Homo sapiens: one gene and its partner. The protein of the gene in region 2 interacts with the protein of the main gene of each other region in a pairwise test. Each region holds a gene or a part of one and is shown on either strand. Other genes may lie near its edges.

What was found.
Region 1: the proteins of SRSF11 (region 2) and ETS1 interact in a two-hybrid assay, tested with the Homo sapiens proteins (one large-scale study listed by BioGRID and IntAct).

What each region holds. Positions count from the first base shown.
Region 1 is NC_000011.10:128,580,965-128,584,790, reverse strand, and holds part of ETS1 (protein C-ets-1), read left to right. Parts: exon of another isoform or gene 1-1,794; intron 1,795-3,826. UniProt on the Homo sapiens protein: Transcription factor. Directly controls the expression of cytokine and chemokine genes in a wide variety of different cellular contexts. May control the differentiation, survival and proliferation of lymphoid cells.
Region 2 is NC_000001.11:70,231,224-70,235,049, reverse strand, and holds part of SRSF11 (serine/arginine-rich splicing factor 11), read right to left. Parts: exon of another isoform or gene 2,940-3,826; coding exon of another isoform or gene 2,783-2,939; coding exon 2,673-2,782; intron 355-2,672; coding exon 262-354; intron 1-261. UniProt on the Homo sapiens protein: May function in pre-mRNA splicing.

The DNA of each region.
Region 1 (3,826 bases), on a different chromosome or scaffold from region 2:
TATGCAGCAATTTAGTGGCATTTCAGGCAAATCTTTTAAGTTTCTTCAATCCTGGGAAAAATTAGATGTGAAGACATAACTTACTTTTTGCTTCCTCATCTCCTTTATCCCTGCTGTACTGAAAGTATAGCTTATTGAACTCCACCTTTTAATGTAGATGATTTTCTAGTTATCATATCCATTCTTCTTCATTTCACCTAAGGAGGAATACTCAGCCCTAACGTTTACTGAGCACTTGGTATGTTCCAACATCCTTGCTAGGTGCTTTGCAGGGACTGCTTCATTTAATCTACAATGAAGTTTTGAGGTGGGCACTCCACTCTCGTCATCCCCATTTACCAGGTGGGGACTCTGAGGCTCAGTCATATGACCGTGTTAACTCATGGTGGACCCTGATTAGAGCCAATGGAATGTGAACCCAGAGCTTGTGATTGGAACTGCATGTCATAGGAATCTAAGTAACTCTAAGACATTTACACAAATTTAGGATAGATTTTTCTGCTTAGACTGATTTGCTTATCTAGGAGAACACTGGATTAAGCCTGTTTTCTGAAGTGGTATCTGTGGATTACTTATTCATTGTTATGAAGATACTGACTTTGAAGAAAGACTACCCAGGCCTAGTTTCCTGGGTAAGTAAGTCAGTCCCTTCCCTGACAAATATCAGTTTTATTTCTACTCCATGCCCAGCCTTGTGCTGGAGACCATACCAAACACAGAAGAAACAATATGTAAACTCCATTTTTAAAATTAACACAATAATCTTTACTAGAAAAGAGGATAAAAATGAAAGACAATATAATTATTAAGTAGTGTAGTATAACCTATACATGCTTTGGGAGTTCAGGTAGAAAAAAATGGTATCTAGAGCAGTGAGGGAAGGATGTTTCTGATCTGCCTTTTTTTCAAAAGAGGATAGATTTCATATTCCAGTAATCAAGTGTTGGAGCTGCCTTCAGAACTTAGAGGGAACAGGCTGGGTAGTACTTACTAGCATGAGAGTAAGCAACAAACATTTAGTGCAAATGTCAGGAAAATATTCTCAATGGGGAGGAAAAAATATATAAATTTTCAAGAGATGTGGAAAGGTAGAAAACTCCAGAATTTTGGTCTTTTTAGAGATTTAAAAGAGATTTAGTCTTTTTAGAGACTTAAAAAAAACTTTTCACTTTGAAATAATTCCAGATGCATAAAAGTTTGCAAAACAATGTACAAAAAGTTTCCAAAACATGTGAGTCTTTTACAATTGTAAAAAAAAACATATAATGCAAATAACTCTTTTAAATTATCTCTTGGCACCTCTTGTAATCCTTAATCCAAATGACTTCTGTTGATGGGAGAAAGCACCATTGCCAGTTTCTTGATAAAAGGGACCAAATAACTAGAACCATGTCTTCTTAGGAAAAGCAAGAAGTCTTGGCAGATGTGCATCTGGCATATGGCTCCTGAGACACTGACAGGTCCTGAGCTACTCAATTCTCCCCAGCCGGGTTTGTATTGCACCTGAGGTTACCAGCATCTGCTCAGCCTTGGCACAGAAGTCTTGCCTGTTCCTCCTTGGGCTCTGCCTCCTAAACACCTACCTTGTTATAATCACTCATGAGTTCAACCAAGTTAGTCCAGCGCTGCCTTGCTACTCACAGTGAAGTCCTCTGACCTGCGGCATCAGCACCACGTGGGAGCTTGTTAGAAATGTGGAATGTCTGGCCAGACCTCAGACCTACTGCAGCAGACTGCATTGTAACAGGATCCCCGGGTGATTCATATGCACATTACAGTTTGGGAGGCACTGCTCTAAAGAAAAAGCAAAAACAAATGAAAAAGCAAAAATGAAAAAAATGAACAAACAAGAAATCTTGCACTATTTTCCGCAGTGCTTTACTACTTCCTTATATTTGTATCTAGTTGCTAAAGCGTAAGTCCACAAAAGATCGACATTATATCAAAAAGATGTTGGTTTAACTCAGGAAGCTGCAATATTTCACCATTTGTGCTATGCAATCTTTCAATGAGTTAGTTCTCCACTGTAAGAAAAATGCTTACTTCTTGGTTTTATGCATAACAATGGTACAAACAGACTACCATTAAACAGAAATTGTGGCTCTTTTCTCCTGCAAAATTCTTGACTAATGCTACTCAACCTATGATTATGAAAGGGAATCCTGTTTTCATGACTTGAATACAAGTCTTTAGAAAAAGAGATGAGAGATTTAGCTATCCATGTTCTAGCTCTAACACTTAAATAACCTCTGCCATGTTGGGCAGTAGAAAAAAGTAATTAATATAAAACAGTAGTGTTACTAATTAGTGACATTAGTAAGCATTTACTAATGCTTACTAATTGCCAGGCACTACTGATAAAATAGCAATAATAACAATTATTATTTATTGACCATTTTTACTATTTATACAGCATGCTGCTAAGTATTTGTGTTTTGTATGATCCTCCTCTATAATCCTGAAAGTGTTGATATTATTACCTGCATTTTATAGTTGAGGAAACTGATTGTGAGGTTAAGAAATTTGCTCATGGCCATACACGCAGCAAGCAGTTCTACGTTCACCCATAGTATGTAACTCCAGGGTTCTTGATCACTGCTAAACACGTAACCTCTTAGGACTCAGTTCATTGAAATAAATGAGAAGATTGATGAATTTTTTCCAACTCCAAAATTCACTGGAATTGCACAATCCCTCTTTATATAAGAATGCTAGCAAGCTGTTTAGCATTATACTGAGAAATTGGAACCTTACATTTCGGGTAATAAAACAAATGAAACTCCACCATGAAAATCACAATCAGACATAGTCCAAGAAGTTGCTTGCTGGATTTGAGAGATCTAAGGCAGCTGGTATCTTTTAGTTCAATTTTAAAGGGGCATTATTGCAACTATCCAGTCCCCTCTCATTGTTCTTGTAATATCTCTTTCTATTTATGGTGCCTCTCAGTTTTGTTGAGAATTCCTTTAGAGCCAGAGCCAAGTCTAAACTCTAGATTATGTCTGACATGCTTCACAGGCTAAGAGTCTGTAATGTAATTCTTTAAAATGCTAGTCTCTTCAGAGGTTTCATTGGCAGCATTCATTGGATTAGAGTTGACGTTTTTAATCTCGTGGCCCTTCTTTGCATTTGACTTGGAAAACAATCTCTTATTCCATGGCCTCTATTACGACCATTCTTGGAAAGCAAAGAGTACTCTACATTATTCCTCCAGCTTATTCTTTTTTTGTTTTGAGGTTCGAAGTAAAACACAATCCTTATTTATTTATTCAGTTATTTATGAGTACTTACCATGCTTCTGGCTCAGGAGTACATCCTAAGGCCAAGTGTGATCATTTGTTGAATTTCATGGTAAAATACAGGATTTGAGGCATAGCATTTGTACACAGGCTATGGCCACTTTTATGGTAAGGCAGTGTATTGAATATTACCTTTGATCTTCAGGAAGATGTTCTGACAGAAGTATGATTGACTAGAAAGTGTAGATTGTTAGTATTTCAAAGGTTTCAGAGACTAGAATTGGCATTTTCTTAGTTAGATTCCTAGACCTAAGAGTCGGCAGGTTTTAATGTATTTCCTTGATGCCTAGGAGAAGCAAGACCTTTCTGTCCATTGTTGACAATGCCATTTCAGTACTGTATGGTGAGGGATTTGTTTCCACTGAGAAGGAAATGCATAAAATAATCTATGAAGCATTCCTTATTTCTTAACTGCTATGGTATACCAGAGTAAAACATCTTCTAGTCTTTCTCTTTTTCAGGAGATAGTAGCGAGTTACTCCTCAAGGAAGGGTAAAACAATATACTCTTTAAAATTATAATGACAT
Region 2 (3,826 bases):
ATTTACTCTGACTCTATGACACACTGATAATGTACTGGCTTCTTGTGAATCTATTTTCTATTTTGAACTATATAAAAGAAATCCATTAATGGATAAAGGAGTTAGTCATTCAGTGACTGTTTAAAGCTCTGACAAGTTTAAACAAGAAAAAAAATTACTACAACATAGCCATTAGCTTCTGCTCTTGAAATGCAAACCAACAGTTAATGAAACAGATCTTCTGTAAAAATGGGTGAAAAATTTGAAGTTACTAAGGTATACCTGAGAGTTCAAGTTTGCTCCAGGAAGCCCAAGTGCAGCAAGGGCAGGATCAAGAGTAGGAGCCCCCAAAGCAGCCAGTGGAACAGCGCCAATCTGTGAAATGGCAAATTTTATTTATTTAAAACTTCATTTCAGTTCCTTATACCAGGGGTTAATACTTTTTTAATGTAAAGGGTCAGATAACAACTTGAGTTTTCAGGCTACATGGTCTCCGTACAACTCCTCAGTTGTACACAAACCATATAACTACTGCCATCATAGCTTGAAAGCAGCCAGAGACGATACCTAAACAAATGGCTGTGGTCCAATAACAATCTATTAACAGAAATAGGAGTCTTGCTCTATATGACACCCATGTTCCACCCATTACAACACATTTCCCCCCTAAATCCTAGATTAAGAAAAAAAGACAAAATATTTCAACATATTCTTGTGCTGATTTTAATTATTTATTGCTTCTCAGGATCCAAATCTACTATTCTTTGCCCTGCTGTTTTGTGCTACCGGAGGCAGGACCTTTACAAAGCATTTCTCCTTTGACAGTTGCCATGATATAAGACTTCATTTGGAAAGAGTGCTGGAAGGACACTGACTAAGAAAGGGGCTCTTCCTGGTTGCTGTGTCCCCTTTCTGATTATTCCTGCAGCACCATGTCAAACACCCAGTAGCCCTCGCCTCTCAGTAAGTTTTAATACCAACTCCTTATGCAGCTCCCCAGGGCACCCAAGAGAACTTATTTACTAGTCACCCTTCCAAAAACAAATCTAAGTTTCAGCATAGATGGGGAAAGAGGAGTCCCCTGAACTAAATGGGTGTTCCTTCTGCTTCAGCCTCAGAGGTAGTGGTTGTTTCTTATACTTGTGATTCCTGTATTCATTAGAGTTCCCCTAGTAATCTCCTATAACTAGTTAGTAATTCCTTAAATGTTCCCTGTTCAAATCACTGCAGGGTTCTGCCACCTGCTTGACACCAATTCTGATTAATCCATAATGTAATAGACACAAACCATGAAAGTGAGGCTACTTTAAAACCATCTGTAGCTTTTGAAACAGCCTCACTTTCTCCACCTGTGCTACAAGTTCTCCTTGTTTCAATTTATTTAGTAAACACAAACTATCAAACTTTCTATAATTTAACTGTTTATTCGTAACAGGCAAAATGCTGTGTTAATACTATTTTAACTTACTGTCCAACATAGCTATTGCATAGCTTTATACATTAAAGGAATTTAGAAAATTACCCAGATCTGGACTGGGCGCGGTGGCTCACGCCTGTAATCCCAGCACTTTGGGAGGCCAAGGTGGGCAGATCACTTGAGGCCAAGAGTTCAAGACCAGCCTGGCCAACATGGTGAAACCCCATCCCTACTAAAAATACAAAAATTAGTCAGGCATGGTGGCATGCCTGTAGTCCTAGCTATTCGGGAGGCTGGGGCAGAATCGCTTGAACCAGGGAGGTGGAGACTGCGGTGAGCCGAGACTGTGCTATTGCACTCCGGCCTGGGTGACAGGGCGAGACTCTGTCCATCTCAAAAAAACAAAAACAAACAAAACAAAAAACAAACAAAAAAAAACAAAACAAAACAGAACAAAGAATAAAGAAAATTACTCAGATCCTCATTTTATAGGTTAAAAGAAATAACCTAGGAGTTAAGTGATAAAAGTCACACCTAAAAAGCTTAGGAACTCCTAATCTTTCATTCTATAGTGCACTTCACAGTTAAGAGTCAATTAGTCAATTATTTAGACAGGCAAAATGATACACTAGAAAGAATGCTTTTATAAATTTCCAGTTGAGGCTCATTCACTACAATCTTTGAAACTACTGACCAGTTACAATCTCAGTAATTAGAATACACAGTATTTAAAGTGCCTTTTAGTTCTAAAATAAGCTTCGTACAGCACTGTCAGTGTTAGAAACACTATTGCAACCAATTTTCTTTCACATTCCCATATCAAACATCTCCATCAAGAATTGCCTTTGTTTTCAAGCCACCTATGTAATTCAAAACCCCCCAAATAACAGGAAAAGATAAAGGGGAAGGAAAAAAAAATGAAGGGCTCACTTGTGAAATTTTAACTTCAGTTTTCTTTCCTGGTCCAAATGAATATATTTTTAACAGTGTGTTCAGAGAAGTGTTCATGCCTCAGGAGACTGTTCCAAAACTACTCATGGGTTATTTTGAGAGCCAATGGTAAAAGTGACAGAACAGATATTTTATGATTTTTCAGAATGTTCTTAAAATACAAAAGTCTAAGAGATCTTCTATACTATTTGTGATTTTGATATAGACATGTGATAATGCTATCTGAACTAGAATCTTATGAGTACTTACAAAGTTCAAATATGTTTAGCTTTATGCACAATTCTGTTTTTTTCCCCACCCTTTAAGAATTCAATAGAACTAGTACCTGGGTAAGTGGGTTAGGAGTAGGCAGGAGTCCACCACCAGGCAGAAGACCTGCCACTGCATTAGCTGGTGCCAACAGAGACAAAGCTTTAGCTTCATCAGGAATAACTCCTGCAGAGAAACATCCTTGCATTAGAACACATTCTTTTCTAAGACAGAAAACACACAAAAACACCCAGAAAATGTCTCCCTGATACACCACCTGAGTTTGTTGAAAGTACTTATGTTCGCTAAAATACAAAGCTTGATTTCTATGATTATTTATCATTAATTTTATGTCAGAATGAACTTCAATGTGTGAAAATTTGTTTCCTTTTTCTCTACAAATGGTTAAGTTTCTAGAGTAAAAAAAAATAGCACAATACACACTACTTTTTTGTTAACACTGCCAAGATTTCATCACCTGTACTCGATTTTTAAGTCATGAACCAAACGTAAGCAAGCACAGTCGGTTCTCCAGGGGTGTGCTCTCAACTTTCAAAAGCTGTTTTATGAACAACGACTCGTGTCGGCTGCTTCACTATAAAGCACACAGAAAAATCAAGATACACAAGACAAAAAAAGTTTGATTTAGGGGTTAATAATATGGTACAGTTACTATGATTTTCTTTTACACCTACCATACAAATTTTGTAAAAATTAAGAGAAGAAAGTATGTAAAGGAAATATTCTGTTGGAATCAAGCGTAGGGCTTTTGCTGACTCATGAAAATGAATATGAATGTTTCTGAAGGTCTCTGAATACACACAGGATGTGTGCATGGGAGTGAGAGAGAAAGAGAGATAGGTAAAACAACATGGCACATTCCTTACCTGTACAGTAAAATGCTTTATGTTTCGCCATGTGCCATGCTAACCATACCAAAAAATGCTGCCATACAGTGCCAGTTGAAAAGCTAACTTAGCCAAACTCCTTAAGCCAAAAATGACATATATATCTGTTTTTAAAGCCTAATCTGTGTATTCAGATAAAATCTAAGGGTCCTAAAACAAATATTTATGTAGACAATTTAAATTCTATCCAACAGCAAAAGCCCTATACAGATGGATTAATCTGTTAATGTGCCCAAGCCCCCAAAATGAGAGTTCAATAATACAATTAAACTACATATTTGCAAATACCAGTAGTATTTCTGTAATACATATTAAGAAACTG